4 separate regions of the Homo sapiens genome follow, and all the other regions are linked to region 4. The links come from fine-mapping of genetic effects on gene expression. A gene starts in region 4. Each other region holds a variant in brackets. All regions are shown on one strand. Distances are from middle to middle.

Region 1 (8,216 bases), 350 kb before region 4:
CTGGGATTAAGTGGTGAACAGTAGGATAAAATAGTCTTGGCCTTCATTGAGCTTAGCTTCTACTGGGAGAGGCAGTCCATAAACAAGAAAGCGAATAAACAAGGTAATTACAGATTGGCAGCCCAATACTGACTGAAATAAGCAGGATGATCAGACAGCATGACCAGGGAAAGTTCCAGAAGAGATGATTGAGAAAGTTCTCTCAGTGTTGTTGACCGTGGTGCTAAGACCAGAAGTATGAGATGGATGGGAAAGAGAATTGGAAAGGGCTTGGTCTGGCTTGAGGACTGACTTTCCTTGCCTTCCAGACTTTGCTGGGTTCCCTTTGCTCCACCCCTCTCATAACACTTAAAATCCAAATATCTCTCAAAGAGTGATTGGTGATTTGAACTAAGCTGAACTCTTTTTTTTTTTTTTTTTTTTTTTTCAAGACGGAGTCTCACTCTGTCACCCAGACTGGAGTGCAGTGGTGCAATCTCACTAACTGCATCCTCCATCTCCCAGGGTTAAGCGATTCTCCTGCCTCAGCCTCCCAAGTAGCTGGGATTACAGGCACACGCCACCACACCTGCCTAGTTTTTGTATTTTTAGTAGAGACAGGGTCTCACCATGTTGGCCAGCCTGGTCTTGAACTCCTGACCTCAAATGATCCACCTGCCTTGACCTCCCGAAGTGCTGGGATTACAGGTGTGAGCCACCGCACCCAGCCTGAACTCTTGATTCATTTATAGGTGCAGTCAACTAACATTTATTGAGCAGGGTTAAATTATATCAAGACTTCTCTGCAGAGTTACTGCTGGGGATATAAAGAAAGAAATCTTAAAACTATGATAAGTAGAGTTCTGGTTTGGGAAGGTTGGTTCATTTGCCTACACAGGGCTGGCATTCTCTCTCTCTCTCTCTCTCTCTCTCTCGCTCGCTTGCTCTCTGTCTCTCTCTCTCTCTTGCTTGCTCTTTTGCTCTTGCTCTCACCCTCTCCCTTCCCCTTTCTCCTCTCTCCTTTGTCTAGGTCTAGGGAAAGAAGACAAAGGAAAGAGGACAATTGCCCCCATGTCCCTACTTAAGGGTAAATATCCTTCTGTCTCCTTCCAACCCTTTCCAGATTTGAACGTACTCTCTTTGCTAATCTGTCTCTGGTGGCTTCCTACCCTTGTTCCATATCTGAATTCACTGAAATGCATTGAGCAGGACGTTAGGCTAACTGTGCCAGAGTCCAGGCCCTCCTCCACCACTTACTAGTTATGTGACTCTGGGAAAATTTCTCTTCTAAAATGAAATTACGGTACCCTCCTCCTTGGGAGGAATAAATAAAGAAGTAGTTGGTACTCTGTAAGGCAACATAGAATTGTAAAGTGTTATTAATATTTGCCTAAGGCAGAATGGAGATGCATCTGTCCAGGCGGGGACAACATTGAGGACACTGAGAACCCAGAAAGAAGGAAATGCCTAAAATTAGGGTGAGGAGGAGAAGAAACAGAAAGAACTCTGATGATACCATTTGGTCCAGACCTATACAGCCATTTGCAGGGCTAGCTGCCCAAGATTTGAATCAAGACCTTGGAAGGATGTCAGACAATGAAGCTTTCTGTTCCAGCCTCTCCCCAGGAGCCCCAGTTGTGTGGGTATTTGGGGGTGTATTTGTTTCCTATTGCTGTGGTTAAAAAAATGAGCACAAATTTTAAAACAACACAAATGTATTATCTTACAGGTCTAGAGATCAGAAGTCTGCAATGGGTCTCATTGTACTAATATCAGGGTGCCGGCAGAGCTGTGTTCCTTGCTGGATGTCCCAGGGAGCATGCGTTTCCTTGCCTTTTGCAGTTTTTAGAGGGTGTTCACATTCTGTAGCTCGTGGTACTCTTCCACCATCTTTGAGGCCAGTGAGACAGGTCTCACTCTGTCACCAAGGCTGGAGTGCAGTGGCATGACCGTGGCTCACCTGCAGCCTTGACCTCCTGGACTCAAGCGATCCTCCCACCTCAGCCTCCTGAGTAGCTGAGACCACAGGTATGCACCACCATGCCTGGCTAACCTTTGATTTTTTGTAGAGATGGGGTCTTGCCATGTTGCCCAGGCTGGTCTCAAACTCCTGGGCTCAAACAATCCTCATGCCTTGGCCTCCCAAAGTGCTTGGATTACAGGTGTGAGCCACCACGTTGGGCTGCAACCTTCATTTTTTCTGCAAACTTCATTCCCCTTTGCCATGTAACATAACATTTCAGTTTCCAAGGATTAGGGTGTGGACACTTTTGGGAGGGTCACTATTGTGCATACCACAGTGGGAGACAGGACTCTAAAAATAATCTTGTTAGTTTCACTCCCGCAGATCCTCCAGCCAGCCCTCTCTGACCTCCCAAAACTAGGTGAGGTGAACCTGCTTGGTGGTCCTATGTGGTTATATTCATCACTCATCCCTCTGTGTTGTGCTTGTTTCCTTTTCTGTATCTGTGAGGAGAGAGACTGCTTTTTCACTCTTAATTGTGTCTGTTTCTTCACTGGAATATAAGCACCACATGGGCAGGATCTTTGTTGGTTTTGTTGTAGATTGAAAAAGGACATTATATGTAAAGCCTTTGGCTTTTAGTAGTAAAGACTTTACTATATTTGTTGAATGAATGACTTTTATCCCCATCACCTGGCATGGTCTCTAGCACAAAGTAGATGCTTAATGATGTTGTTGCTGCTATTTCTACTACTACTAATATTTATTGAGCCCTTGCTATGTGCTAGGCACTGTGAAAAAGGCCTTACATACAACATCTTATTTAATCCACACAACAACCCATAGGGAGGAGCTATATTTCCCTATCCTATACAGAAAGAAACTGAGGTTTAGGGAAGTTAAGTCATTTGCCCAAGGTCAAATGGCCTAAGAAAGGGTTGCACTTGGATTTGAAATCATATCCCTCTGACACTGAAGGCCATGAACCTTTTACTTCTAGTTGCTTTGAGAGGCGATGTATGCCCTCTGGCTTGCAGGCATCACTCTGGTACTCTGTGGAATTCCAGGGAAGGCATAGCTACCTCATCCCTGATACTTCTCATTGACAGAGGATATTCCCTGTTTACAAGAATCCACTGTGCAAACAGGTAGAGAGGGTGCATTCCTCTCCCGGAGAATGGGATTCATCTGTTTGGCATGAGTGAGGCCCCATAAAGAACCATAGGCACACTGGGGAGTTACTAAGCCAAGCCCTCAGTAATGACAGTAGATACTGTCCTAGATCAAAGGCTTAATGTGTGACAGCCTTAGTGATGCCTTGATTCCTACCTTTACCACCTGGGGGGACAGGCTCTCCTCAGAAAATTATGGGATTTGAGCTGTGGGTATAGGCAGCAGATGTTTGGTACTGCCAGTTTAGTTCTTATCAGGGCCAACCCTCTGTGACTATCTGGGCCACCTCTCTGTGAGCCGGACTGGCCTGGCCACATAGTGTTCACCCAGTATATCCAAGATGGAATCGCTGTCTTTACTGACTGGTTATAAAAACATAGGATTTTCTTGGGAAAGTTTGCTAAAGACGGAGCAGCAGGATGCAAGGGGGAAAGTCAATAATGGATTTGTGTGTTCATTCATTCACTCACTCATTCATTCAACAAATGTTGAGCACCTGTGCCCAGCTCTATGCTAGGGGGCTGCAGATCACCCTGGAGAGCAAGAGCAGTGTGCCAGCAGGGCTGCACTCTACCCTGACACCCAACACCTAACATGGTGAGTAGTGCATAACAGAGAAAGTGATAGGAATTGGAGGTACAAAGACTGATTGTAGCAGCAACTACAAGGGGAGGTAAGGAAGACCCAGAATTTGAGCTGGATTGAGCTACCTAGGGAAATAGCATGAGTGAAAGCAGGAAGGCAGGGGCATTCTCCAAAGATAGTAGGTGGAGCAACAGTGCTGCACTAGAATGAGGGACAGGATGACAAGTTACAACTGGACTTGGTAGCAAGGACAAAAAGGCTATCTGAGGCATTTGAATTTTACACGACAGTACATGAATGTTCATTGAAACTTTGCTTTTTAAAAACAACAATTTTAGGCCAGGCGCAATAGCTCATGCCTGTAATCCCAGCACTTTGGGAGACCGAGGTGGGCAGATGATCTGAGGCCAGGAGTTCGAGACTAGCCTGGCCAAAATAGTGAAACCCTGTCTCTACTAAAAATACAAAAATTAGCTGGGCGTGGTGGCGGGTGCCTGTAATCCCAGCTATTCTGGAGGCTGAGGCAGGAGAATCACTTGAACCCAGGAGGCAGAGGTTGCAGT[G/A]AGTGGAGATTGCACCGTTGCACTCCAGCCTAGGTGAAAAGAGTGAGACTCTCTCTCAATAAATAAACAAATAAATTTAAAAAACCAATTTTTTAAGGTCTGATTTACATACCACAAATTTCACCCTTTTTAAGTTTACAATTAAATGATTTTTTTTTTTTTTTTTTGAGATGAAGTCTCTCTCTGTCGCCCAGGCTGGAGTGCAGTGGCATGATCTCAGCTCACGGCAACCTCCGCCTCCCGGGTTCAAGAAATTCTTCTGCCTCAACCTCCTGAGTACCTGGGATTATAGGCGGGTGCCACCACACCCAGCTAATTTTTATATTTTTAGTAGAGATGGAGTTTCACCATGTTGGCTAGGCTGGTCTAGAACTCCTGATCTCAAGTGAGCCACCTGCCTCAGCCTCCCAAAGTGCTGGGATTACAGGCGTGAGCCACCGTACCCGGTAAGTTTATGATTAAATGATGTTTAGTAAAGTTATCAAGCTGACCAACTATTACCATCACCCAGTTCTAGAACATCTCCATCACTCCAATAAGATCTTCCTTGGATCCAGTTTGAGTGGCTGATTCATCCGTTAGAAAATAAATCCCTCATGCCCATTTACAGTTAATTTCCATTCCCATCCCCAACCTCAGGGGAACATTATTTTACCTTCTGTCTCTATAGGTTTACCTTTGCAGGACATTTCATATAAATGGAATTATACATTATGTGTTTTTTTCATGTCTGGCTTCTTTCACTTTGCATAGTGTTTTTGAAGTTCATCCACATTGTAGCATGTAGTCGCATTTTATTCTTTTTTTTGCTGAATAGTGTTCAATTGTATGGTTATATCATATTTTATTTATTCACCAGTTGATAGACATTTAGGTAGTTTCTACTTTTTGCCTATTATGAATAATGCTGCTGTGAACATTCTGTGGGCAAGTTTGTTCTATTGGGTACATACCCAGGAATGGAATTGTTGAGTTGTATGGTAAATTTATATTTAATTCTTTCAGAGGGCTGTACTTATTTTTTATTCCCTTTTAAAAACAGCTTTATTGAGATACAATTTGCATATCATAGAATTCATCTGTTTTAAGTATGCAATTCAATGAATTTTAGTATATTTATCGAGTTGTATAGACATCACCATCACCACAATCTAATTTTAGAACATTTCTATCACTCTAAAAAGAAATTTTGTGTCCACTTGTGGTGTTTTGGGTCTGGCTTCTTTTACCAGGCATGTGTAAGATTCATTCACATTGTACAATATATTAGCACTCCACTCCTTTTTATTGTCAAATACTATTTCATTGTATGGATATGCCATATTTTGTTTATCCGCTCAGTGGTTAATGGACATTTGGGTTGTTTCCACTTTTTGTCTCTTGTGAACAATACTGCTATGGACATTTATGTACAAGTTTTTGTGTGGATGTGTGTTTTCATTTCTCTTGCATAGGTACCTAGGAGTGAAACTGTTGTATTATATAGTAAGTATATATTTAACCTTGTAAGAAACTGCTAAACTGTTTTCCAAACTGGCTGTACTATTTATTTGTTTATCTTTATTTTTTATTTTTTTTGAGATGGAGTCTCGCTCTGTCACCAAGCTGGAGTGCAGTGGCGTGATCTCAGCTCACTGCAACCTCCTCCTCTCAGGTTCAAGCAATTCTCCTGCCTCAGACTCCTGAGTAGCTGGGACTACAGGCGTGTGCCACCATGCCCAGCTAATTTTTGTATTTTTAGTAGAGAGGGGGTTTTGCCATGTTTGCCAGGATGATCTCGATCTCTTGACCTCGTGATCCACCTGCCTCGGCCTCTCAAAGTCCTGGGCTACAGGCATGAGCCACTGCACCTGGTCTGGCTGCACTATTTATGAGGGTTCCAGTTTCTCCCTATTCTCACCAACATTTGTTATTGTCTGTCTTTTTTATTGTAGCCATTCTAGTGGAGGTAAAGTATATTTCATGTGTGATTTTTGTTTGTTTGTTTTTTGAGATGAGGTCTCACTCTGTTGCCCAGGCTGGAGTGTAGTGGCATGATCATGGCTCACTTCAGGCCCCACCACCCAGGTTCAAGTGATTCTCTGCCTCAGCCTCCCTAGTAGCTGGAACTACAGGCATGCCATCACACCCAGCTAATTTTAAAAATATTTGTAGAGGTGGGGTCTTGCTATGTTGCCCAGGCTGATCTCAAACTCCTGGGCTCAAGTGATCCTCCCAATTTGGCCTCCCAAAGTGCTGAGATTATAGGCATGAGCCACCATGACTGGATCTCATGTGGTTTTAATTTGTATTTCCTTAATGACTAATGACACTGAACATCTTTAAATGTGCTTATTAGCCATTTGTATATCTATTTTGGTCAAATGTTTTGCCCATGTTTTAATTGGGTTGTTTGTTTTCTTATTGTATTGTAAGGATTCTTTACGTATTATGGGGGTATTATCGGATACATGATTTACAATTGTTTTCTCCCAGTCCGAGGCTAATCTTTTCCTTTTCTTAATGGCATCTGTTGAAAGATTTTTGAGGAAAAAAAGGACAAAATACAGCCATGCTTCAGAAAGATAGGCAGGCAGCAGTACGTGGGATGGATCAAAAGGGACAGAGAACTCTTTTTGAAAGTTGTAATAAAAGGAACAGGCACAGGCCAAGTTTTAAAAAATTCTCCAGGAATCAAAGGGTTATAAGCAGCTATTTATTGAAGCCTGTTTACAGTCCAGTTAACCAGTAAACCAGAATCAGTGAAACTACCCATCTGGGGAAGTGCAAAAAACCTTTCAAAAGGCTTTCCTGGATTAGAGAAAGAAAGGGAGTGAGGGAGGAGAGATGAGTGGCTATTCCAGAACGACATAAAGAATTTCCAGCCTTGGACGGACAGCTGGGAACGTCTTCCAATTTGGACTGGTGTTTACAAGCGGGAAGCTAGGTGGACCTTGGATTTTGGCGGGTGAAGAGGCTAGGTTGTTTAAGGAGGTGGGGCGCGTTTCAGTGGCTCTCTTTGAAAAAGCCCAGCAAGATGTCAGACCTGCTCTCAGTCTTCCTCCACCTCCTCCTTCTCTTCAAGTTGGTTGCCCCGGTGACCTTTCGCCACCACCGCTATGATGATCTTGTGCGGACGCTGTACAAGGTGCAAAACGAATGCCCCGGCATCACGCGGGTCTACAGCATTGGGCGCAGCGTGGAGGGGAGACACCTCTACGTGCTGGAGTTCAGCGACCACCCTGGAATCCACGAGCCCTGTAAGTTCTGAACAGCTCTTGAGGGTGTGTGGGGCAGGGCCTTTCCCTTGCAAATCCAGTAATTGGAGTGGTTTCTGGGGTGGTCCGTGGACGCCTCCGCCTACAAGGTATTATCTCTTTCTCAGCCTGTGCTATTTCCCTCTTAGCCCTCAAACTGCCACTGCCTCTGGGGAGCTATAACCCTCCTTCAGCCTTCAGATCTTTCCTCCTTTTTGGGTTCTGTTTGCTCAAAACTTTAATGGTAAAAGATGAGTCTTCTTCCCTGCTCATGTCCCATATCCCTTCATTTCCCCCATTTCCTTTCTTTTCCCCTTACTATTGTTCTGTCTTTCCCCACCCAATGGCTCAGGAGACATAGGCAAAAACAATGAGCCCTTCTAGTTCTGCCAGGAAACTTAGAAGGGTATAGGGGAATCTCTTCGGGGAGTGACAGTGTGGTATTCCAGAGAGAGTTTGGGGACTTGGGTGTCAGTTTTATTTACTGGATTCTTTTTTATTTTTTATTTTTTTGAGACGGGGTCTGGCTCTGTTGCCCAGGCTGGAATGCAGTGGCATGATCTCAGCTCACTGCAGCCTCCACCTCCTGGGCTCAGGTGATCCTTTCCCCTCAGCCTCCTAGGTAGCTGGGACCACAGGCATGCACCAATACGCCCGGCTAATTTTTGTATTTTTAGTAGAGACAGGGTTTCATCATGTTAACCAGGCTAATCTCAA
Region 2 (8,216 bases), 130 kb after region 4:
TTATCATTTCTGCTATAAGAGAGAGCTATCCCTTCTCTTTTATTTATTTATATTCGTATGAGCTCATAGATTATTTTATTCTATGGCTATTCTATAGTGATATTACCACTGTAATATTGTGCTGTAATACCACTGTGATGATAATAAATAATTACCATTATTTATGCTGATGTTCGAATACTCCCAGATTTGGCCAATGGGGGTCCCTTCTGATTCCTGTGTTCTTTTTCTATATCTCCATTTTTTAAAAAGCACTTCCTTGCTTTCTGGCACAACACGATATTCTAAGCTTATCTTGTACTTTCCCCCTCTCAGTCCTAGAATTAGTCATTTCTCCAAGGAGCCCTAGTTTTTTTTTTTTTTTTTTTTTTTTAGTACGAAATGGTATTTAGAAACCAAGATCCAAGTGCCAGGTATACTCAATGCTACTGTAGTGTCTACTTCTAGGCCCTTTAGCCCACAGAGCTAAGAAATATACATATTTTATCTTAATTTCTACATCTGTACACACAGACACACACACACACACACAAAATCATGGATTCATATAGATACCTCCAGTTCCAACTCAACACCACAAAATTCATTTTAGTCCTCCCTTTCTCCATATTTATAACTCTCCTCTCCAACAGCAAGAACTAGCTTCCAATATCCTCAGTACATTTACTCATTTGTGCAACTCTACAGCACACAAAAGGTATTTCAGAATTGCTCACCCATATCACTACAGAAAAAACTCCTTCTAACTAGAATTAAATATTTGTTGGGCTTGTTTATTTGGTTTTTATCCTCCCTTCAGCATCGCAATATTATTTGTTTAAAATAGAGTTATTTAAAATGAGTTAAGTTCATTCCTTTTTTTTCACGTCAGGTAACATGCTGATGTCTTAAGGTTTGAAGGAGGCACATCTCACATGTGTGTGAAAACCCAAATCATCATGTTCACGGGCTACAAAAGGATGCATTTGTTTCTATTTGTATTCCATTCTAAGTTTCTTCCCCCTTCTCATCCTTGTTGACTTTTTTTTTAGTGGAGCTTGTGGATTTTGTGGATGGGCTTTACCGGGTCTATAAACCCCTCGGAGTTTTATGCAAAATATTGAATATGTCTGCCTTTGGAGCAAGGGTAGAGAATCCATAAGATTCTTAAAATGATCTTTAACCTCAAAATTTAGGAGCACAATAGAGAAGAGCAGGAATCCAGGGACCCTCTAAGAGGCTTCCCACTAGTGGGGTAGGAAGTTCTGCCAGACTGTGAGACTCTCAGGACAGACAGGATCTTCTTTATCTTATATGTCCACTGCTGAGCATGCACATAAATGCAGAGGGAACAGAAACCAAAGGAAAATGGAAGAGAAATGTGGGAGCAAATCTGTACCTTGAAGCAAACTCAGGATTGCTCTTTCTTTCTAAGCATTTCCCCACCAGTGACATCAGCTCAGACGTCTTAGATTCTGGTCCTCCCAGGGCATGCCTAGAACCACACCATGGTGGGGGTGGGGACACAGCCTGGGCATCTGTCTATAGGCATACATAGAAAAATAAACTAGGCCAGGCGCGGTGGCTCACGCCTGTAATCCCAGCATTTTGGGAGGCCGAGGCAGGTGGATCACAAGGTCAGGAGTTCAAGACAAGCTTGGCCAAGATGGTGAAATCCTGTCTCTACTAAAAATGCAAAAAAAGTAGCTGGGCATAGTGGCGGGTGCCTGTAATCCCAGCTACTGAGGATGCTGAGGCAGAGAACTGCTTGAACCTCGGAGGCGGAGGTTGCAGTGAGCCAAGATCACACTGCCACACTCCAGCTAGGGCACAGAGCAAGACTCCATCTCAAAAAAAAAAAAGAAAAGAAAAATAAACTAGGCTGGGCACGTGGTGGCTCACACCTGTAATCCCAGCACTTTGGGAGGCCGAGGCGGGCGGATCACCTGAGGTGGGGAGTTCGAGACCAGCCTGACCAATGTGGTGAAACCCTGTCCCTACTAAAAATACAAAAATTATCCAGGCGTGGTGGCACACACCTGTAATCCCAGCTACTCGGGAGGCTGAGGCAGGAGAATCGCTTGAACCCAGGAGGCAGAGGTTGCAGTGAGCCGAGATTGCGCCACTGCACTCCAGGCTGGGTGACAGAGCAAGACTCTGTCTCAAAAAAAAAAAAAAAGAGGAAGAAAGAAAGACAGAAAAAGAAAAAGAAACTAGAAGAAAAACCCCAGTTCATTGCAAAGATAACTGACCCAATGCTCTGATTTACTCCCTGCACAGGTTTCTTTTGGCTGCAAGGCCCCTGCCAAATTGGAGAACAAGAGCAATTATACCTGAATAGAAAAGCCGTGAGTCATGAAGAATTAGTCCCCTGCAGGCACTAACTGAAAGCTTTCCCTGGGTATGGTGGGAGGTAGGGACCCCCACTGACATCTAAAGCAAGATTTTTCATTGAAGGGTGGCACTGCTCCTTGGGGAGCTTCTGCTGCTAGAGAGGGGCCTAGGAAGGCAAACAATAAGGTGAGGGACACTTGGTCAAGGAATATTCTCCCTGGATTGCCTCCTTTAAACAGTATATTCCACTAGGCACAGGTGAAGACAGAAGAAGATGCAGTCCCTGCCACAGGGCTGAAAGAACGTTTAGAAAATCAAGCGTCAGCAAAAGCCAAATTGTACAACACAAACCGAGCCCACACTAGCTGAGTGATCTGTGGGGTGGGGTAAATCAGAGGAAGCTCCCAGAGGAAGGGGTATGAATTTTGAAGAAGAGTTGAGCCTGAAAAAAGAAGAGAGGTGAGACAAGGGCACTCCATCTGGCAGTCATGGCTCAAGGAAGAAGCGGAGGTATGGAGGAGAGGCGGCTTGATCCTGAGAGCAGAAAAGGGAGGTCTTGCTTCAAAGACCAAATTGGAGGGGACTGGAGTCCTGTGCCTGTAAGAGGCATTGTTCTTCAGGAGGAAGAGATCGTGTGTGGGGCTGACTTGAGGAGTAAGGAGGATGGCAAGAAGTTACTGAGGTCCCCTGGGACCAGGGATGGAAAAATTTACCTGGCTGGACAGGTGACTGTGGGATCGTGTATTAATCCTATCTGCTAGCAGATGAATAAAAGATGAAAATAAGAATTGACACTTTATAATACTCTGTGCACTTATATTGCATTTTCACGTGTAGCATTTTTACAAGCAACAATTGAATTATAATTCTTGCACATCTATTATGTGCTGATCATTGCAGGTAGCTGCTCAGGTGAGCCTCACAACCACTCTCTGCGGGAAACATAAAGGAAGTCATGTACTATCACTTGATATCATGTGCTCTAAATTTGCTCAAATGTTGAGTCTCATGAGAACCCTATGAGTCAGATGTGGCAGGAATTATTATTCCTGTTTTATAGATGAGAAAACTGATGTTGAGAAAGGTTAAGGCACTTGCTCCCAGTCATATAGCCAAGGACTGTCAGCCGGCCCTTTTTGACTCATACTAAGATCTTAATAGCTTACTTCCACTTTGACTTCATGTGCACAGTGTTAACAGTGACCTCCATGTTTTTGTAATGCCATTTTGGCCTAGGTCTGCTGCCCACTTGAGCTAAACACTCTCAATTCCTGGCATTGATTTACCAAAGTTTAGTAATTCAGCTTGTTGAGGGTCTCAAGGTCACCATTATTTCTTCATGCCAGGGCTGGGTCTCAGGAAAGCAAACAAAATGCTGACGGTCACTTGGAATCTGAGCAAGCAAGGAGGCTATCCCCGGGGAGACAGCTTCCTCAGCCCTGTCTGCCACATACTCCTGCCAGCCGCTGGGAATCCACTTCCACTGCCCAGCCGCCTCC[A/T]GCCATCAGCCTACTGTCAGAATCCAAGCACCAAGCGCTTCTTTCCCTTTTCCGCAAATCCTCCCTTATCCAGGATGATGAGCTGCTTCTTTCCATTTTTCCAACCCACACAATTACATTGCCAAGATGGTCCTTGCAGGTCTCATCTCCAGGACGTGAGAACTTAAGGCTAAATCCTGAGATTCCTGCTTTATCTTCTGCCTAGCTCACCTTATTCTAAGACTGCTTTCCACAAATCTCAGAGGTGGCTACAACACAGTGCCAGGGGCAGGGTGGGGTGAGTGAAAGGCCCATACATGGCTCCAGAGGAGGCTAGTGGGAGCAGGAAGACATCCAAAGATATGTGGGGGAGTGAATGCTACTTCTTAGCTTCCAGTGAAGATCAGACACTGTAACTGTTCATATCATGTTAATGGTTTGACAAGGTTTCTACCTAAGAACAGGACATCAAAACAGGCTCTGGAGCAAGGGATCAGATTAGGAACTTGAGTCAATGTCGTGTCTCACAGGTGTTCTCAGACAGATGACTATATCCTTCCCTGGGTACTTGCAGGGTAAGCACATCCCCTCGAAATAGCAGCAGCTCTAAACATGAAATTCTTCCTGGAGGATTTTCTTACTCTTGAGTTCTATTCTACCAAATTTTTTGAGCACTTACTGTCAGGCATTCAGAATGTGAGCAATGACAATAATTTACCTACACTTTTGCACTTACAGTATGCTGGGCCCAGTTGATTCTCAAAACAGTTCTGGGAATTAGCTATAAAAATGCCCCCATCTTACAGATGAGGAAGCTCAGGCTCAGAAAGGCAAAAAAAAAACCATGCCTGAACTCACACAGCAAGAACATGACAGAACAAGCGTTCCAACGCAGGATTCCAAAGGTAGTGTGGCTCGCCAGTGCCCCTCAGGGTCCCTAAGAAGTGAGAAGCAGTCCTGCCTGCAGGAGCCCAGTCCCAGGGGTGAGACTGATTTGTAAAGAGATCATGAGACGTAAGTGCTGTAATAGAGGCATGAGGAAAGTTGTTTCCATTCTCTTTCTGCCTGTTCCTGGAGTGGTGCTCACGGGAGGGGACCCAGGACCTTTGGAAATGTAAAGTGTAATACTTAGGTTTTTGTAATTGGTCACTTCTTTGCTAGCTGTCAGAGGTTCAGGAGGCCAGTGAGGAGTGGCCGGCTTGGAGGGTCCTTGTGTTTACATGACAGCCCAGGGCTGTCATATCCATTGTCTCGTGTGATCCTACCCTGCTGCACTTGCTGTTCCCTCTGCAAGGAACGCTCTTCCCCAGATACCACCTGGCTCACTCTCTCTTTATCTTTTATTTATTTTACTTTTAGATAGATGTATTTTTTGAGACAGGGTCTCGCTCCGTTGCCCAGGCTGGAGTGCAGTGACACAATCTTGGCTCACTGCAACCTCCATCTCCTGGGTTCAAGCAGTTCTCATGCCTCAGCCTCCTGACTAGCTGGGACTACAGGTGCACACTACCATGTCCGGCTAATTTTTACATTTTTTGTAGAGACAGGGTTTCGCCATGTTGGGCAGGCTGGTCTCAAACTCCTGACCTCGAGTGATCCACCTGCCTCCCAAAGTGCTGAGATTACAGGCATGAGCCACTGCAACTGGCCTGTTTATACATTTTTTGTTTGTTTGTTTGTTTTGTTTTGTTTTGTTTTGAGACAGAGTCTCGCTCTGTCGCCCAGGCTGGAGTGCAGTGGTCTGATCTGGGCTCACTGCAGCCTCCGCCTGCTGGGTTCAAGCAATTCTCCTGCCTCAGCCTCCTGAGTAGCTGGGATTATAGGTGTGCACCACCACACCTGGCTAATTTTTGTATTTTTAGTAGAGACAGGTTTTCACCATGTTGGTCAGGATGGTCTCAAACTCCTGACCTCATGATCCACCTGCCTTGGCCTCCCAAAGTGCTGGGATTATAGGCATGAGCCACCGTGCCCGGCCTATACATATGTTTTTGAGAAAGGGTGTTGCTTTGTCACCTAGGCTGCAGCACAATGACGCAATCACAGCTCACTGCAGCTTCGACTGCCCTGGCTCAAGTGATCCTCCTACCTCAGCCTCCCAAGTAGCTGTGACTACAGGTGCAAACATCATGCCCAGCTAATTTTTTAAAAATGGTTTTGTAGAAATGAGGTCTCCCTTATGTTGCCCAGGCTGGTCTCAAGCTCCTGGACTTAAGTGATCCTCCTGCCTTGGTCTCCCAAAGTGCTGGGATTACAGGCGTGAGCTACTGAGCTTGGCCTGGCTCACTCGCTCACTTCTTCCTGGTCTTGGTTTCAGTCTCACCTCCCCAAAGAGATCTTCCCCAAATTCCTTATCTAAAATAGCCTCCCCTACCACTCTATCCCTTTCATTCCGCTTTATTTCTCTTATTGCACTTACCGCTGTCTGAAGTTTTTTATATGTTTGTTTATCATCCGTCTCCCCCAAATGAGGACTGGGACTTTTTCTGTTCTCCAGCACCAAGAACAAGACCTGGAACACAATAGGTACTTAATAAGTAATTTGTTGAGCAAGTAAACCAATTTAAGCCTTAAAACAATGCTGCAAGGTAGGTGTCATTAAAATTGTGAAGCTCATGGCCATCTGGTAAGGAAGGAAGCAGGCCTAGAGGAGTCATGTGGCAGGTCCAGGTCCCACAGTGCACACCCATCAGCCCGGGTACATGCCCGGGTCCCCCTCTTTCCCACCAGTCTCTTTGCCCAACACTATTCCTCTCCTCCCATGACTCAAATACTCCATAGTTCTGTGGTCCAGAGACTGTTAGTTCATTGTAGAAAGGAAAGAAACCCAACAATACCCGGGAGAGCCATTTATAATCCCTGGGCAGGGCAGGGTCGTGTCCTCTGAGGAGCATGACACAGCATCAGTGTCACCAGCTCTTCCAGGACCTCCCTGCCAGTTGCTGCCTGGTGTCCAGTTGCAGTGCAGTGGGCTGAGCTCAGATCACCCTCCAGGTGGAAAGAGCAGCTCAACCTCATGCTTTGCAATGAATACCTGCTTCCCCCTACCCCTTCAGGCCTTTCATGAGGATTCCTGGAACAGCATGCCAGAACGCCTGTCTCATAGGCTAATGCAGCGTGAAAGAAATCATCTTACCCTGTGGGGGCAGCAGGCTGCTCCCAGCTCTGCAAAGACTGAGTACTGGGTAAAGACCCCCTTCTGGGTTCCTTCCCACATAAGCGTTCGGGGTTGTGCTTGGCAGAGGCCACACAGAGGAAATAGCAAGGAAGGGGACATGAGTACAGGACTGTAGAGGTGTGTGTGTGTTGAGGGAAGGCTCAGAGCTCACTCATTCACTCAAACAAGCTAACAAACATGGGGTCTCAGAATGGAAAGAAATATCAAAGCAGTTGGGAGATGTGGGCTTGTGTCAAAGTCCACCTCTTATAAAAGGTGTGGTGTGACTTAGGGAAGTTACTTCCTTTGTTAAATGGGGATAATAAAATAACACCTACTCAGCTGGTTAAAGAATCAAATCCGGGCTGGGTGTGGTGGCTCACACCTGTGATCCTCCTGGGAGGCCAAGGTGGGTGAATCACTTGAGGCCAGGGATTTGAGACCAGCCTGGCCAACATGCTGAAACCCTGTTTCTACCAAAAATACAAAAATTAGCCAGGCATAGTGGTGCATGGCTGCAGTCCCAGCTACTCGGGAGGCTGAGGCAGGAGAATCGCTTGAACCTGGGAAGCGGAGATTGCAGTGAGCTGCAATTTTGCCACTGCACTCCAGACTCCAGCCTGGGTGACAGAGCAAGGCTCTGTCTCAAAAAAAAAAAAAAAGGAATAATGACACATAGAAATTATAATGAATATAATCAACATGTAAAAAGCTAAAGAAGAAAATAAAAATCTATAATTCTACTATGTATAATCACTGTTATTATTTTGTATATCTTCTTTCTTTTCTTTTTTTTTTGAGATGGAGTCGCACTTTTTCGCTGGAGTGCAGTGGCACAATCTTGGTTCACTGCAACCTTCACTTCCCAGGTTCAAGTGATTCTCCTGCCTCAGCCTCCCGAGTAGCTGGGATTATAGGCATGCACCACTGCGCCCAGCTAATATTTTTATTTTTTTTGAGATGGGGTTTAACTATGTTGGTCAGGCTGGTCTCGAACTCCTGACCTCATGATCTGCCCGACTCAGCCTCCCAAAGTGCTGGGATTACAGGCGTGAGCCACCGTACCTGGCCCCTGTATATCCTCTTTCATAATTTATCCAAAGCACATGTATGCAAATATATATTATATATGCATGTGCCCCCTCACCATAAGGCTGGATTGCATGGACTGTACCTCGAGGGCTTCTAATAATTTTTATCATTAATATCATTAGAGTAGTAACCTCAGTCTTCACTGGAACTTTATCATTGCTCTGGAAAAGTAAGAA
Region 3 (8,216 bases), 42 kb after region 4:
CAACCTCCGCCTCCCGGGTTCAAGCAATTCTGCTGCCTCAGCCTCCTGAGTAGTTGGGACTACAGGCACGTGCCACCATGCCCAGCTAATTTTTGTATTTTTAGTGGAGACGGGTTTCACCATGTTGGCCAGGATGTTCTCGATCTCTTGACCTCATGATCAGCCCTTCTCAGCCTCCCAAAGTGCTGGGATTACAGGTGTGAGCCACTGTGCCCGGTTCTGTGGCCTTTTCTAACATTATCCAAGAAGCCCTAAGGTTCCTTATGACAGGTTTGGGGATTGGGAAAGTTCAATTTTATTGTACCGCCAATGAAAAGGTGCTATATTTTTTTCTTGAACCTCAAGGGCAGAGGCTGAATTAATCATATTCCTCAGCTCATTCCACATTATCATGGCAAAGCCTCTCTTTTGCTTTATTTATTTATTCTCTTTTATCTTCATACTTAATCTCATTCCATTCTCTGCCATGGGCAACCATTCTAATGTGTTATGTATAATTTTTGTATATATGTATTATTATAAAATGAGGATTCTTGTTTTGAATGTATTTCTTTTTAATTTGTGAAAAATACCATTGTGCCCTGCAATTTCACTCCAAGGTACATACCAAGAGATCCAAAAACTGGGGTGGGCATGGTGGCTCATGCCTATAATCCCAGCACTTTGGGAGGCCAAGGAGGGTGGATCACTTGAGGCCAGGAGTTCGAGACCAGCCTGGCCAACATGGTGAAACTCCGTCTCTACTAAAAATACAAAAATTAGCCAGGCATGGTGGTGGGTGCCTGTAATCCCAGCTACTCAGGAGGCTGAGGCAGGAGAATCGCTTGAACCTGGGAGGCAGAGGTTGCAGTGAGCCGAGATCGTGCCATGGCACTCCAGCCTGAGTGACAAGAGTGAAACCCCATCTCAAAAAAAAAAAAAAACAAAAAAACTTATGTACATAGAAAAATGTGTATATGAATGTTCACAGCAGCACTGTGCATAATAGCCAAAAAGGGAAAACCACTGAAATGTTCATCAGCTGATAAATGGATAAACAAAATACAGCATGGTTGGTCATACAATGGAATGCTGTTTAGCCATTAAAAAGGAATGAAATACCCATACCACGAGATGGCTGAACCTTGAAAACATTTTGCTAAATAAAAGAAGCCAGACATAAAACACCACATATTGTATGATTTCATTTATACAAAATGTCCGGAATAGGCAAATCCACTGGAGAGAGAAAGTAGATGAATAGTTGTCAGGGGTAGGGAGAGGAGAGAATGAGGAGTGACTGCTAATGGGAAATGAGTGGGGAGTGAATATGGGGTTTCTTTTTGGGGCGATGAAATGTTCTGGAATTCAATAGTGGTGGCTGCACAACTTTGTGAATGTACATAACTTTGTGAGTTGTACAAAAAAATATATTAGGCATTCAGGATTATTTAAAATGTTTTAAATGCCATTGTCTCACAGTTTCTTTCATTTTTACCAAGCACTAAGATTCATCTTGAAGAGCCATTATATTGCTATGTGTAGTTACTATTTTTTTTTTTTTTGAGATGGGGTCTCACTCTGTCACCCAGGCTGGAATGCAGTGGTGCGATCTTGGCTCACTGCAACTTCTGCCTCCCAGGTTCAAGCGATTCTCCTGCCTCAGCCTCCTGAGTAGCAGGGTTAGAGGTGCCTGCCCACCCTGCCCAGCTAATTTTTGTATTTTTAGTAGAGACGGGGTTTCACCATGTTGGCCAGACTGGTCCTAAACTCCTGACCTCAGGTGATCCACCCGCCTTGGCTTCCCAAAGTGCTGGGATTACAGGCGTCAGCCACCGTGCCCGGCCTGCTATATGTAAATCTAATTTGTTGCTTGCAAGTATGCATTCCGTACCAGTGTTGCTTTCCATAACCATGTTCCTTTCTAAATCTGCACACACACAAAAGTCATTTCTTTAAGACTTGAAGCCCCAGTCCCGCTTGTCACCTATTTCTTAGTATCAGATCCATGCCTTCGTTTTACCTGTTAAATACATACTAACGAATATAGACTAAAAAGTATCACAACCTAGTTAGTCCCCCACATTTCCAACCCCAGCATGAAATTCTCTGCTGACTGCTAAACTCACATTTCCAACAGTCCTGTGGATATTCTGACATATATGTTCCTTGGGTATCTTAAACTCAATATATCCAAAATTGAAGTCATTAGTTTTACAACTTCTGAACTAGAAGACCAGATAGACGCTCTCATCCAGATCTCTCAGGACAATACTGTTTGCTTAATATCACCCCTGCCCTTACCCCTGTTGCTCTTCTCTCAGTTACTGGGTTCCTCAGTCTTCTGGTTATCTAGGATAGATCCTCAGCACTGCTGGCCATCCTCCCACCCTACTCACACTACCACAATCAATCGCTCAATTACATTGGGTTTTCACTCCAAACTATCCCCTGAAATCTGTCCCCTCCCTTTCATTTCCACTTACTTTGTCTAACTCAGCCCTTTATTACTTCTCACTCAAGGTTCCGTGACCTATATTCTTTCTCCTACTGACACAAAAATTTTTTCACTACAAAAAGATCAGATCACAGTCACACAACTGACATCATCACAAAATTCAGAGCTGAGAAGGACCTTCACAGTTTAATTATTTTATAAATGAAACTGAGGCCCATGTGACTGCCTTACTCAAAAACTTTTGGTGGTTTTCCACTATCTATGGAAATAAAAGCCAGTCCCCTTATGATAGCACTCAATACTGCTCATGATTTAGCTCCATCTTATCTTCCCAGTCTTAACTACTAGCACACCTGAAAATCCTATACTGCAAAAGGCTATTCGTCATTCCCTGGACATTCTGGCCTCTGTGCTGCTTTTTCTGTGCCTTTGTATATAGTGTTCCCTCCATGCAGGTGGCCTTCCCTCAGCCTCCACTCTGCAAAAAAAAAAAAGCCTACTCTCATCCAAGGCCCAGGTAAATACTTTACCTTCCATGAAGCAAGAATGGCTCCCATTCAACTTTGCAAGCTAAGTTGGCTGCCAGTCCCCATATTGCCACAGCTCTCTGTTTAAACCAGATGTTCTCAATGATGGGCAATTTCCACCCTGCCCCACACATCTGGTAATGTCTGGAGACACTTTTGATTGTCACAACTGGAAGGGGGAGGGTTGTTACTGACATCTGGTATAGGCAAGAGATATCATATGATGCATGGGATAACCCCTGATGACAAAGAATTATCTGACCCAAAATGTCAAGAGTGCCAACGATGAGAAGCCCTGGTTTAGATCAAGTTAAGCACTGCTACAGTCTCCCTGATATCACAAGCTGTCTCCACTGACAGATAAATTATAAGTTTTTAGGGACAGTGTAACTCACATGTCTATTCCTTGTACATAATATTGTCTATTCCTTGCACATAATGGGTGTACATAATAGGTGTACATAATGGCTGTACAAAAAGTGTCTGTGTAGGATGAAACTTCTCCCTCAAAATACATTCTTTACATTCTAGTGGGGTAAGGATTATTAGAAGGCCCAGAATGGAATCATCAGTAAGGGGAAAGGGAATAACATTTATTGAACAATAGATATGTATCAAATACTGTGCTCCAGAATGTAAATGCATTATCATGTTTATCCTCAGCAATGGCAGGAGATACCTAGTATAGTTATAATTGTTAAAATGTATTGAACACTTATGCTGGACAGTTTGCTAAATGCTTTACAAACATGGTATTATTTCATCCTCATAACTTTATGAGGTAGATACTATTATTATTCCTTTTTCACACAGGAGGAAGCTGAGGCTCAGAGAGGTAACCTACTCAAGATAACGCAAGCTAGCAAGTATCTGAACAAATATTTAGAGCCAGGTAGGTTGGTCTAAGTCCAAAGACAGTGTCCTTCCTTCTCAAATACTAGCATTCCTAGCAACTAAATTTCCCTAAAAGGTAAAGTACCTGCTTTGCAGGAAGGACAGAGGTTGAGGTAGGAACTTCATAAGCAATTTGGAGAGAGGCTCCTCCCATATCCAGTATCCCTACTGTCCTTCTCCGTCCTGCTGCCAATTCCTGGGTAGCCTCAGCATCTGATTCTGAAATAAATAAGAGAACAAAAAGGCCCTAGTAATTAAAAAATAAAATTAAGTCAAACCCCCAAAACAGCAATCCCTTGAAAATTTGAAAGCAGGCAGGTGCCATGGCTCACACCTGTAATCCCAAAACACTGGGAGGCCAAGGTGGGAGGATTATGTGAGCCGAGGAGTTCAAGACCAGCCTAGGCAACATAGTGAGACACTCTCATAAAAAAAAAAAA[T/A]TTTTTTTAATTAGCTGGGCATGGTGGTGCACACCTGTAGTCCCAGCTACTCAGGAGGCTGAGGCCAGAGGATCATTTGTGCCCAAGAGTTTGAGGCTGCAGTGAGCTATTATCGCACCACTAAACTCTAGCCTCAGTGACAGAGAACCTGTCTCAAAATAAAAAAAAGAAAGCAAACAAGTATACTAACTGAATCAACTATATATTACACAAAGAATAATTCTTGTGAATTACTTAAACATGACATTTTGACTACGTATCCCTAGTAGGATATAGCCTAAGGACAAAAGAAACAAATATCTTAAGCTACATCGCAGTAGTCTTGTTAACAATATTGTTGGTTTTATTATTTAAAAATTATGAAGGGAGACTGAGGCAGGCAGATCACAAGGTCAGGAGTTCGAGACCAGCCTGACCAACATGGTGAAACCCTGTCTCTACTAAAACACAAAAATTAGCCGGGCATGGTGCTGCACACCTGTAATCCCAACTACTCAGGGGGCTGAGGCAGGAGAATCGCTTGAACCCGACAGGCGGAGGTTGTAGTGAGCCGAGATTGCACCACTGCACTCCAGCCTGGGTGACAGAGCAAGACTGTCTCAAAAAAAAAAAAAAAATTATGAAACATATTGTGGAATAAAACAAATAAATGTTTATGTCAATATCTTTAGGAACAAAGATTCAGCATAACAGAACAAAAAGGATATAGGTATAAAAATCAAATAAATTAATAGCACCCTATAATCTTACATATGAGTCAGAAATATGACTATGAACTCATTTATTTTTCTCTTTCTAAAAAATACATATTTCCTAGCTGTGTTCACTGAAAGGCCTAGAAGCAATGATATCCCAGGAGTAATGACCACCTGTGGTATCTGGACCAATAATCTCTAAATACCATCTTTTACTAAAAGAAACCAGGGCTCTTTTAAAAACAGGCCAATGCCAGGTCTAGGGTAGAAAGTATACAAGATGACCCTGGAATACATTGCTGTACCAGATAGCAAGGGGAATATAAAAGAGTATTGGGGTCATATTAAAAGGATACAGCAGCCAACCTAAAGATGCTCCTTAAAATACTAATAATGTGATGGGCTCTAATGCATCTAATATATTAAAATCCATGAGTTCATAATAATAATTAAAACTTTTTTTTCACTGGTTACCTTTGGAAGTTGCTAGACACCAACTCATTATTCAGAAATGTGATAAATAAAAAGAATCAAGGATTTATTCTGTCTTTCCCATAAGAACTATATGTCAGGGTAACCAAAGAGTTGATCAAGAAAAGTTCATTACATAAAAATTCTAGCTGTTAAATGCAGAAGGAATGACAGAATTAGAAATATCACCATTTTGCAATCTCTAATGAAAAACATGTCCAAGCAATGATCACAATTGGCTATTACCACAATTCCATGAAAGGCAGATAAGGAATTTTAATACTAAGTTAGATCAGGCTGATAATACTTGAACTCTCAATACCTGATCAGTCTGAGCATGACAAAAAGTGAGTCAACCAGACATTACAAAACTCCTGATGTGAGTAGTGGAAAACACACAGCGCCTTCTATGATTTAGTCTTGCAGATGGAATTGAATCTGAGTCTAATCAAACATCTATATCTGACCTCCAGTTTAAAGGACATATGAGGGGATAAGAAACATGTTAAAGAAAACATGTTAACCCCACAAAGATGCAGTCAATCAAATCTAGCATGTGGCAAATTCTTTCTACCAGGTGATCCAATTTTTTCTTGCTTTTAAAGGCAGGGGAGTGAGGTGGTAAGGTTAACAATTATAGATTAAAAGAGACTAAAGAGACATATTAATCAAATGCAATGCATGACCCTTGTTCAGATTCTGATTTGAACAAGCCCACTACGAATAAACATTCTTGAGAAAATCAGGAAAATCTATACCTGGATAGGGTATTAGATACGTATTGTATGATATTAGAAATTGTTAATTCTATTAAATTTAAAAATGGCATTATGGATATATTTTTTGTTCATTTTGAAACCCCTTATCTGTTGTAGATACATACTGACATACATGAAAATAAAAATTACATGTCTGGGGTTTGCTTTTTAAAACATTCAATGAGAAAAAAAAACCTTTAATACATGGGGGGATATGGGGGAGAAATGGCAAAACATTAGTAAATATTGAGCCTGGGTAATGGGTCCATGGAGGTTCATTTTATTATTCTACTTTTGTGAATGTTTGAAACTTTCCATATTAAAAAGTTAAAAAGAAATCAAAGAAAGCAAATTAGGACTGGAAAATGAAGCATCTTATGTTTGAAAAAAGAAAAACAACTCAAAATTTGCATTTACATGCTACTGATAGGTTATAACTTAAATCTTCAGCCCTTAGGTAAACTGTCATAAAAAGACAATATTACTCACCATCCTCGTGGTCGAATCTTCCCAAAACAAAGTTGATTCCAATCCATGCATAAACCCCTAAGTAAGAAACAGAAAAGCCCTCACTTAATTCTCTACTGCTATGCCATGTATACACCTCTCCCTTAGGGCTTCTCTTTCCTCTTTTTCTTGGAAAAAGTAATCATAGTATTTTATTCCATACTCTCAATGTAGGAATTTCAAATCTTTCATCTTGTGATTTTTTTCCCTTTTAAAATTATTTGCATCTTCTAAATTTCCTCAATGAATAGAAATTAATTGTATAACAAATGTCTAAGAAGTATAAATCATCTGAATGTCACGAAGATATCGAAAAAAAAGAAAAAATGTAAATTTTGGAGTTCTAGTTCTGGGCAATCTTGTCTCCCCACTGAATACAAATATAAACTCTAGATAGAATGCATGGAGCAGCTTTCTGGAAACTCTGAAAGTAAATGATAATGAGCACACCGGGAAAGAGACCAGGGTTTAAACTACCACCAAGCCAGTAGTGAGTGTCCCATTTTTTCCCCCTCAGATATTACCTGGTCTAGACTTAAGAGCAGCTTGAAACATGAAAGTAAACACCAGGTGTGAACAGAGGAACTTCAACTCATTTTCTGGTCCAAAGAACAGAAAAAGGAATGCCAAAAGTTCAGAGAAAATAAGGGAAATCTCCTGCTTTTTTTTTCTTTCTTATTTTGTTCTCTCTAACCTTAGGCAACAGAGGTAGAATTTGAGCAGGTACCTAAAACTCTGAGGGCTTTGAATTCTTTTCTCTGACCAGAGAAGCTGTAGCTTCAAGACTGTGAAACAAATCCTATTGTTTATTTAGGCTCCCTCTGTCCTCCTACCGCTTGGCCCTGGATGCAGATGCAGTCATGAGAAGTGCATGGCAGAGAGTGGGCAAATTAAAGCCCTGGTATTCTGACAGGAGGATCATGAAAGGGAGCTCCAAGGAACCAGAAAGTGGCAGAGGGATCACAGACAGTAGGGAGCAAAGTTGTGTATGAACCCCTGGGCTCACCTCCAAGCTACAAATACATGGATCTGACCCTAAACAATATCCAAACAGCTCTGAGAGCTGAACTACAGGCTAGGCCACTGCCCAGGTTCCAGATTAGCCACTGGCTGATACACAGGACAAATCCAAATAGCAGTGGCCAAGGCTTTGAAAAATGAATGAATAGGCTGGGCACGGTGGCTCACACCTGTAATTCCAGCACTTTGGGAGGCTGAGGTGGGTGGATCACGAGGTCAGGAGATCAAGACCATCCTGGTTAACACAGTGAAACTCCGTCTCTACTAAAAATACAAAAAATTAGCCAGGCGTGGTGGCACACGCCTATAGTCCCAGCTACTCGGGAGGCTGAGGCAGGAGAGTCGCTTGAACCAGGGAGCGGAGGTTGCAGTGGGCCGAGACCACGACACTGCACTCCAGTCTGGATGACAGAGCGAGACTCTGTCTCAAAAAAAAAAAAAAAAAAAAAAAAAGAAAGAAAGAAAGA
Region 4 (8,216 bases):
CCCGGCTGATGTTTACATTTTCAAAAGATTTAAAAATAAAATAAGTGATAAAGATCAAATGTGTCCAGCAAGGCTGAAAATATATATACTATGCAGCTCTTCACAGAAAAAGTTTATTGACCCCTGAAATAAATGAAAAACTGGCCATGTGTTGAAAATGGGTGAAGATGAGTGATGCATACATGGGGCTTCATTATCCTATTTGCTCTACTTTTGTATATGTTTATTTTTCCATAATAAAATTTTTTTTTAATTTTTCTGAACCTGAGATGATGGAAATGTCTGTGCTTCCCATTAAAACAGGTTCAGAGTACAACAGAAACTTTGAGGGAAAAATAGATAATGTTCAAAAGTAAAAAAGATAAAATTCCTCATGATGAAGTCTCTGAAGTCATCTTTAAGTTAATGGTTTAAAAAAATTAAAATTTTGCTAAGTTCAATAAAAAATCAAGTCATTGAGTAAGTACTATTGTCGACACTTGACTTAAAATGTGACCCACTTGGGGAGAGGGAGAGACTAGATCATAATTTTCCAGTAGGGTTTCTAATTGGTTGTTTCTGAAAGCATTATGAGGGATGCTTAGAGATCACAAGGGCTTCTGAGATAAGCACACAGGATTAATTTTCAGACTCTTAAAAGGGTAGCCAACGGTCATTCACTATCTGATTTCTCTTACCTCCTCTTTCTGCATTCACAGCTGATTCCACTGAATCAACACAAACTTCCATGAGAAATCCATTTGCTGCTCCTAAAATACATGGAGAATGGTAAGAGTTCATAAAGGTTCTATCCATCCAGACCAATTTACCACAAAGGGTTTACATTCTGCTGCCAAAATGCAAATGTCCAATAACAGGTAATAGATAAGTACACTAGGGCCCATGAATGCAATAAAATATCACATTAATTATTGAATTGATGCCTATAGACTGAAATAGGTACACAGACAGATGTATAAAAAATTATACTGAGGAAAATGTCTATCGAATGCCAAATTAATCTTCCTAAAACATAGACCTCATCATCACATTCCAGCTGAGATTCTTACAATGCTTCTCAATGCCTGCAGAATATATTTAAACTTCTTTATAAGGAATATAGGTTTAAAAGCAGGACAGACTTCAAATCCATGTCCCACCAACTATTTAGTGTGAGATCCTAGATTAGTTACTTAAGTTTTCTATAAAACAAGGTAGATTTTAGTATGTACCTCAGAGTAGTGAGGATTAAATTAGATAATTCATGTAAAGTATATAGTCTCAAGAATCAAAAAGTATTAGTTATCTGGCCGGGTGTGATGGCTCATGCCTGTAATCCCAGCACTTTGGGAGGCCGAGGTGGGTGGATCACATGAGGTCAGGAATTGGAGATCAGCCTGGCCAACATGGTAAAACCCTGTCTCTACTAAAAATACAAAAATTAGCCAGGCATCGTGGCATGCGCCTGTAATCCCAGCTACTTGGGAGGCTGAGGCATGAGAATCGCTTGAACCCAGGAGGTGGAGGTTGCAGTGAGCCAAGATTGTGCTACTGCACTCCAGCCTGGGTGACAGAGTGATACTCTGTCTCATTCCTTCTTATGCTTCCAGATCTCTCCAGTCCCTACCGCTGGCTCCCCAATGCCTTCTCCTCAACCCAGAGTTCCTTCTGGCTTCATCTCTGAATAAAATTTTTCAAGGAACATTTCCATGATTTTTTCTGTCTCCCAAAGTAGAAAATTTTATGTCCCTCTTTTGAACTCATTTAACTCTTCATGAGTTATGAAACCCCAATTGTTCCTTCTTAAAATATGAATTACTTTCTACCTTTTATTATTTATGCAGATAAATATCTGATCACTTCTACTTGACTTAGAGTTCCTAAGTTTGTTTTTTTTTTTTTTTTTTTTTTTTTGATACAGAGTCTTGCTCTGTCGCCCAGGCTAGAGTGCAGTGGCATGATCTCGGCTCACTGCAACCTCCGCCTCCCAGGCTCAAGCAATTCTTGTGCCTCAGCCTCCTCAGTAGCTGGGACTACAGGTATGTGCCACAACACCTGGTTAATTTTGTATTTTTTGTAGAGATGGGGTTTCGCCATGTTGCCCATGCTGGTCTCAAACTCCTGCACTCAAGCGATCTGCCAGCCTCGGCCTCCCAAAGTGCTGGGATTATAGGCATGAGCCACCACGTCTGGCCTCCTAAGTAAGGTCTTTATGTGAGAAATCTTTATCATCACCCACACCAAGCACAGTATCTACCATGGTACACAATAATCAAATATTTACTAAAAGCTGAATAATTACAACAAAATTAATGTATTTATATTACAAAGTGTGATGTAAACAGAGTTTTGAGTTTTTTTCCGGGAGCACATAATTTAAAAAAATGAACGAAACAATGCACACTTCATGTAATGACACTTACTAGAATGTTCCTCACATACTGGTAATGGTCACTTCTGGTGGGGTGTGATTTGAAATTATTTTTATTTTCTTCTTTTTACTTTTCTTTATTGCTTTATTTTTTCTACCCAATATTGCTTTTATAATTTAAAAAAGCAATTTTTACTTTGAAAAACAAATAAAACAAAAACCTATCATCTGCTAACATCAAACTGCAATTGCCTTACTTATTTAAGACTATCAGTCCCTGTCCGGCGCGGTGGCTCACGCCTGTAATCCCAGTACTTTGGGAGGCCAAGGTGGGCGGATCTGAGGTCAGGATTTTGAGACCAGCCTGGCCAACATGGCGAAACCCCATCTCTACTAAAAGTATATAAATTAGCCGGGCGTGGTGGCGGGCGCCTGTAATCCCAGCTATTCAGGAGGCTGAGGCAGGAGAATTGCTTGAACCTGGGAGGTGGAGGTTGCAGTGAGCTGAGATCAGGCCACTGCACTCCAGCCTGGGCGACAAGAGCCAGACTCCGTCTCAAAAAAAAAAAAAAAAAAAAAATACTATCAGTCCCAAACTGTGAAAGGGTTAAGTGTCAATCTATGCTCTTAACCAACAGCTCTGCATTATTAACTCCATGAGTTTCCTGGTAGCTACCAGACCAGCTGTCAGATCAGTGGCACTGGCCGATGCTGATGCTGCCGGGGGACTATTTGCCTCACACAAGAAAGGACCCTAGGCAGGAGAAGATGGAGAGATGTATAAAAAAGGCTATGACAGAAGGCAGAGCAAGGCAGTTGTCCCAAGCAACAAAGTTATAGGATCAAAGGAGAAGCAGCAGCAGTTCTCAAAGTGTAGTAGTCCAGAGAGCTTTGGGAGCCTCTGAGACTTTTCAGAGTCTGCAGGGCTACAACCGTTTTCTTAATAATTCTAACACTTTATTTGACTTTTTCACTTTAATTCTCTCACAAGTGAGAGGCGTTTTCTTTTTTGAGGCAGAGTCTCACTCTGTCACCCAAGATGGAGTGCATTGGCGCGATCTCGGCTTACTGCAACCTCCGTGAAGAGGCGTTTTCAAGAGGCTACTTGACATGTTAGACTGAATGAAGCAGCGGGCATGAGAATCCAGCTGTCTTCCATTAAGATATACTGAAGAAACTTGCAAAAATATATTTCCACTCTTTTGCTTTTTTTGTTGTTGTTGTTTAGGAATATTTCTTTTTCAAAAAAATATTATGTCAATATGTAATGGGTTTACTATGGTTATTTTCTAATCAATATTTTAAAATTTTGTTTTAATTTTATTTTTATTTTTTTGAGACGGAGTCTCGCTCTGTCGCCCAGGGTGGAGTGCAGTGGCGCGATCTCGGCTTACTGCAACCTCCGCCTCCCGGGTTCAAGTGATTCTCCTGCCTCAGCCTCCCGAGTAACTGGTATTACAGGCGCCTGCCACCATGCCCAGCTAATTTTTGTATTTTTAGTAGAGACGGGGTTTCACCATGCTGGCCAGGCTGGTCTCGAACTCCTGAGCTCAGATGATCTGTCCCCCTCGGCCTCCCAAAAAAAAATTTGTTTTAATTTCTAATACAGTCAAAATAGATAGATGTAATCCACATAAAGAAAAAATCTTTGAGGATTCTTGATAACTTTTAGGAAGGTTCCTCTTCACGGAGGAAGAGGGACTTGCCAAATTCTCTGGCACCTGCCATGCCATGCTACCCTGGCACTCAGGAAGAACTCGGGTCTTGGAGCAGCCACAAGCTCGGCCACTTGGTAGCTGCGTGACTTTGGGGACCAAGCCCCGTCCCCGCCGTGGCAGCTACAGGTAACTGCAGGTTAGGAACTGGGCTCCGCGCTCGACAATTAACTATCCCAGCGGAGTACTGGCTGCTGGTGCGGGCGGTACTGGCATCCTCGTGTGGCGACGGAAAAAACGTGAAGCTGAAGTTAACCAACTTGCACAAGGTCGCAGGGCCGTTATGAGGGGACCCCGGGACTCGAACCTTGGCTCCACAGCTGAGCCATTCTCGCTACCTGCCCCTCGTCACGCCCTCCGTTTCCACACCTTTAACGCCTCAAAGATAGAAGGTGCCGCCCAAGGGGCTGGAAGGAGCTGAGGAAACGACTCCAGAAGAAATCACCACTGACTACGACTCCCGCCGGCCCGCCCCGGGGAGCCTTCGGCCGACCGTCCCCTCCCCCGCCACCTTCCGCACCGGCCTTCCCGGACGGTATCCGCGCTCGTTTTCGCTCAGAGGAGGCCCCCTGCCTTTTCATGCTCCACGCGTTCCTCCCTCGTGCGCCTGCAGTTTCCACTTGGAATTTGGGCTCCGGCGCGCACCAGCTAAGAAGCGCGTCAACAGCTGCGCGCGCCCGTGCGCGCGTCCCCGACACCTACGCCCCAGCAGCCCCCGCGAAAGCGGAGTCGCAACGCAGGCGCACTTCTGTTCGCTCCGGTCCCCAGAGAAGGCGGGGCTCCCGCTGCCCGACCCGGAAGTGCTTCTCTTTTCCTTGGCGGAGGAGGGAGACCACAGAGCCCTGGGTTGTGGAAGAGGTGGCTGTTCCCTGTCATCAGTATGCAGCGATTGCTCTTTCCGCCGTTGAGGGCCTTGAAGGGGAGGCAGTATCTGCCGCTCCTGGCTCCTAGGGCAGCGCCTAGAGCACAGGTACCGCACTGCAGCGGACTCCGAGTCGCGGGAGCGGGGATGGAGTGAAAGGGCCGGGATAAAGATAATGTAGAGCCCCACATCACGTTTCCGGAGCTCCTTACAGTGCACTCACAACGCATAGGTTCAGATCAGAGCCCCTAGGTTCAGATCTGGAACATTGACCTGCTGTGTGGTATTGGCCAAGTTAATTAAACTTTCTGTTCTTCAGTTTCCTTATCTGTAAAATGGGGATAACAATACCTACTTTAAGGTTTGTTATGAGGATTACATTCTTTAATATACATCAGGCCTTTAGCACATGGTAAAAGCTGAGTAATTTTTACCCATATAGTTTATTTTTGCTTAAAAAGTTCCAAGTAGTCAGATGAGGAAGTATTACTGCATCCTACAGAGAAGGAAATTGAGGCTTAAAGTTACTTTTCTAAAGGTGACTCAGTTAATCAGAAATAGGAAACCGAGCATGGATCTTTGGACTCACAGGGATATAGTAAGAAGAGGGCATGCATTTGCTTAACTAGTAATTATTGAGTGGTTATTATATATTAGGAACTGGAAAAAGAAAGATAAATATTACAAGACTCCTGCCCTGGAGGAAGTCAGTTTATTCATTTGCGAAATCCTTATCATGGTCTCATTATATAAAGGAACAGTGTTAGAAACAAAGCTAGCAGAAGGGAGAGAGCAAGACTGACCGGACACTGCCACCCCAAAGCTCATAGTTTAGTGGGAGATACAAACAGATGAACCTGAAGGTAGAGTGATGTGCTGCATAACAACATTTTGGTCAACAACAGGCCACAGATACAGTCATGGTCCCATAAGATTATAATGGAGCTGCCTTTCCAAGTGTACCTTTTTTTTAAAAAAAAATCTTTTTCTCTAAATTTCTTTTTTAGAGACAGCGTTTTACTTTGTCACCCAGGCTGGAGTGCTGTGGCATGATTATAACTCACTGCAGCCTCCAGCTTGGAAATCCTGGCCTCAAGCATCCTCTTACCTCAGTCACTTAAGTAGCTAAGACTACAAGTGTGTGCCACTGTGCCTAATTTTTGAAAAAATAGAGATAGGGGGTCTCGCTACATTGCCCAGGCTGGTCTCGAACTACTGGCCTCAAGTGATCCTCTCACCTTGGCCTCCCAAAGCCTTGGGATTATAGGCTTGAGCCGTTGCACCTGGCCCCATTTTTAAATCTTTTATACCATATTTTTACTGTAATTTTTCTATGTTTAGATAAACAAATACCATTGTGTTACAGTATTCGGTACATAATATGCCATACAGATTTATAGCCTAAGAGCAATAAGTCATACCATATAGCTCAGGGGTGTAGTAGGCGATACCATCTAGATTTCTGTAAGTACTTTTTTTTTTGAGAGATGGAGTCTCACTTCATCGCCTAGGCTGGAGTGCAGTGGTGAGACCTTGGCTCACTGCAACCTCTGCCTCCCAGGTTCAAGTGATCCTGCCACCTCAGCCTCTCAAATAGCTGGGATTACAAGCATACACCACCATGCCCAGCTAATTTTTGTATTTTTGGTAAAGATGGGGTTTCACCATTTTGGCCAGGCTGGTCTTGAATTCCTGACCCAAGTGATCTCCCTGCCTCTGCCTCCCAAAGTGCTGGGATTACAGGTGTGAATCACTACACCCAGCCTTTAGATTTGTGTAAGTACATTCTATGAGGTTCACACAATGATGAAATTGCTTAAGAATGCATTTCACAGAACATGTGCCCCTGTTGTTAAGTGATGCTTGACTGTACATTACAGTGTATTAAGGGCTTTCCAGTGTGCTGTGGGAGTGACCTATTGCAGACCTTGAAGAGCCTGGGAATACATCCCAGAGGAGGTGACATGTAAGCGGAGATCTGCAGTAGGTATTATTAATCAGGGGAAAGGAAGTGTACAAGCCAGAGAGAAATGTTGAAAGACCTAGAGGTGAAAGAAAATATTCCATATCTGTAAGTAGAGTGAAGTCTGAGGGAAGTATTCAGAGATGAGAAGATTCATGTAGTTGGGGATAGGTTTGAGTGAGGCTAGATTTGAAAACCAATTGGAAAACCAGTTGGAAGGCTGATGCAGTAATCCAGATAAGAGATGATGACTTAACAAGACATGGCTGTGGGGATGCTATGGTACTTCGCGCTAATCAGAATGGGGTTGAGTGTGGGTAGCAGCCATTCCCTGTTTCTCCAGTTGTAATTTGTCTATCTTGATCTTTAGTGTGATTGCATCAGGCGCCCTTTGAGGCCAGGGCAATACAGCACCATCTCTGAAGTAGCTTTGCAATCTGGAAGGGGTACAGTGTCCCTTCCCTCAAAGGCTGCTGAGCGGGTGGTGGGCCGATGGCTCCTGGTCTGCAGTGGAACAGTGGCTGGAGCAGTTATTCTTGGTGGAGTAACTAGGTAAGTAATTTGCTCGTAGTGAGTCAGGTATTTGGATCATCAGTAGAAGCACAGGTTGACTGAGGAGAAAGGATTTTTTTTTTTTTTTTTTTTGAGACAGAGTCTTGCTCTGTTGGCCAGGCTGGAGTGCAGTGGTGTGATCTCGGCTGACTGCAACCTCCGTCTCCTGAGTTCAAGCGATTCTCCTGCCTCAGCCTCCCAAGTAGCTGGGACTAGGCGCGTGCCACCATATCTGGCTAATTTTTTGTATTTTTAGTAGAGACAGGGTTTCACCATGTTGGCCAGGCTGATCCAAACTCCTCACCTCAGGTGATCTGCCCACCTCGGCCTCCCAAAGTGCCAGGATTACAGGCATGAGCCACCATGCCCAGCTGGAGAAAGGAATTTTACAGAGCATCTAGTCTAGCTCCCTCATTGTATAGATGGAGAAACCGAGGCCTTAAAGAAGGAACATGTCTGATGGCTTGCCCTGCCATAGAACAGTTGAGTGTTTTATTAGTAGGAGCCTTCTATAAAGACTGGTTTATGTCTTAACTGGTACCTGTGCATTGTTTATGTATCTTTTCTCTTTCAATCAGAGTCCAAGTTTGTCTCAAAACTTTTTTTACAGTTTGTTTGAATTAAACCCAAAGAAGTTCTGTACATCACAATTGGTTCATGTTTCTTAGGTTTGTTTAAATCTATCAAGAGACTATAGATTTAGACACTCCTCCCTTTCCCCCTCTTCTAGTTGCTGAGGAAACTCTAGTCATTTGTCCTATGGTTATGCACAGT

Direction of the effects. Positions count from the first base shown, and alleles are read on the strand shown. Sizes are in standard deviations (SD) of each study's normalised expression. Not every link is listed here.
In carriers of allele T in region 2, the expression in subcutaneous fat of the gene that starts at base 4,868 in region 4 tends to be lower than with A alone (small effect, 0.17 SD a copy in GTEx).

Evidence for each region. PIP is the estimated chance that this variant, and not a neighbour inherited with it, causes the effect.
Region 1: its variant is fine-mapped to the expression of COX15 in whole blood (TOPMed, PIP 0.98).
Region 2: its variant is fine-mapped to the expression of COX15 in subcutaneous fat (GTEx, PIP 0.95).
Region 3: its variant is fine-mapped to the expression of COX15 in whole blood (TOPMed, PIP above 0.99). The same link has a PIP of 0.9 or more in blood mononuclear cells.

What each region holds. Positions count from the first base shown.
Region 1 is chr10:100,080,689-100,088,904 of GRCh38, reverse strand. CPN1 (carboxypeptidase N subunit 1) reads left to right here and starts at 7,036. Exons shown (of 9, transcript NM_001308.3): 1 at 7,036-7,502. The coding sequence starts at 7,280. The variant G/A (reference allele first, on the strand shown) is at 4,264.
Region 2 is chr10:99,594,525-99,602,740 of GRCh38, reverse strand. It overlaps LOC124902589 (small nucleolar RNA U13), which reads right to left and starts at 961; the gene lies at 861-961. RefSeq lists an enhancer at 6,475-6,975. The variant A/T (reference allele first, on the strand shown) is at 3,813.
Region 3 is chr10:99,687,246-99,695,461 of GRCh38, reverse strand. ENTPD7 (ectonucleoside triphosphate diphosphohydrolase 7) reads right to left here. Exons shown (of 13, transcript NM_020354.5): 7 at 6,712-6,768; 8 at 3,944-4,077. It also overlaps a transcript of COX15 not described here. Among named protein-coding and RNA genes, the nearest start is that of ENTPD7, 32 kb to the right of the region's middle. The variant T/A (reference allele first, on the strand shown) is at 4,299.
Region 4 is chr10:99,728,779-99,736,994 of GRCh38, reverse strand. COX15 (cytochrome c oxidase assembly factor COX15) reads left to right here and starts at 4,868. Exons shown (of 9, transcript NM_078470.6): 1 at 4,868-5,035; 2 at 7,261-7,442. The coding sequence starts at 4,946. It overlaps CUTC (cutC copper transporter), which reads right to left and starts at 4,761. Exons shown (of 9, transcript NM_015960.3): 1 at 4,586-4,761; 2 at 678-749. The coding sequence starts at 4,646. RefSeq lists an enhancer at 4,947-5,166.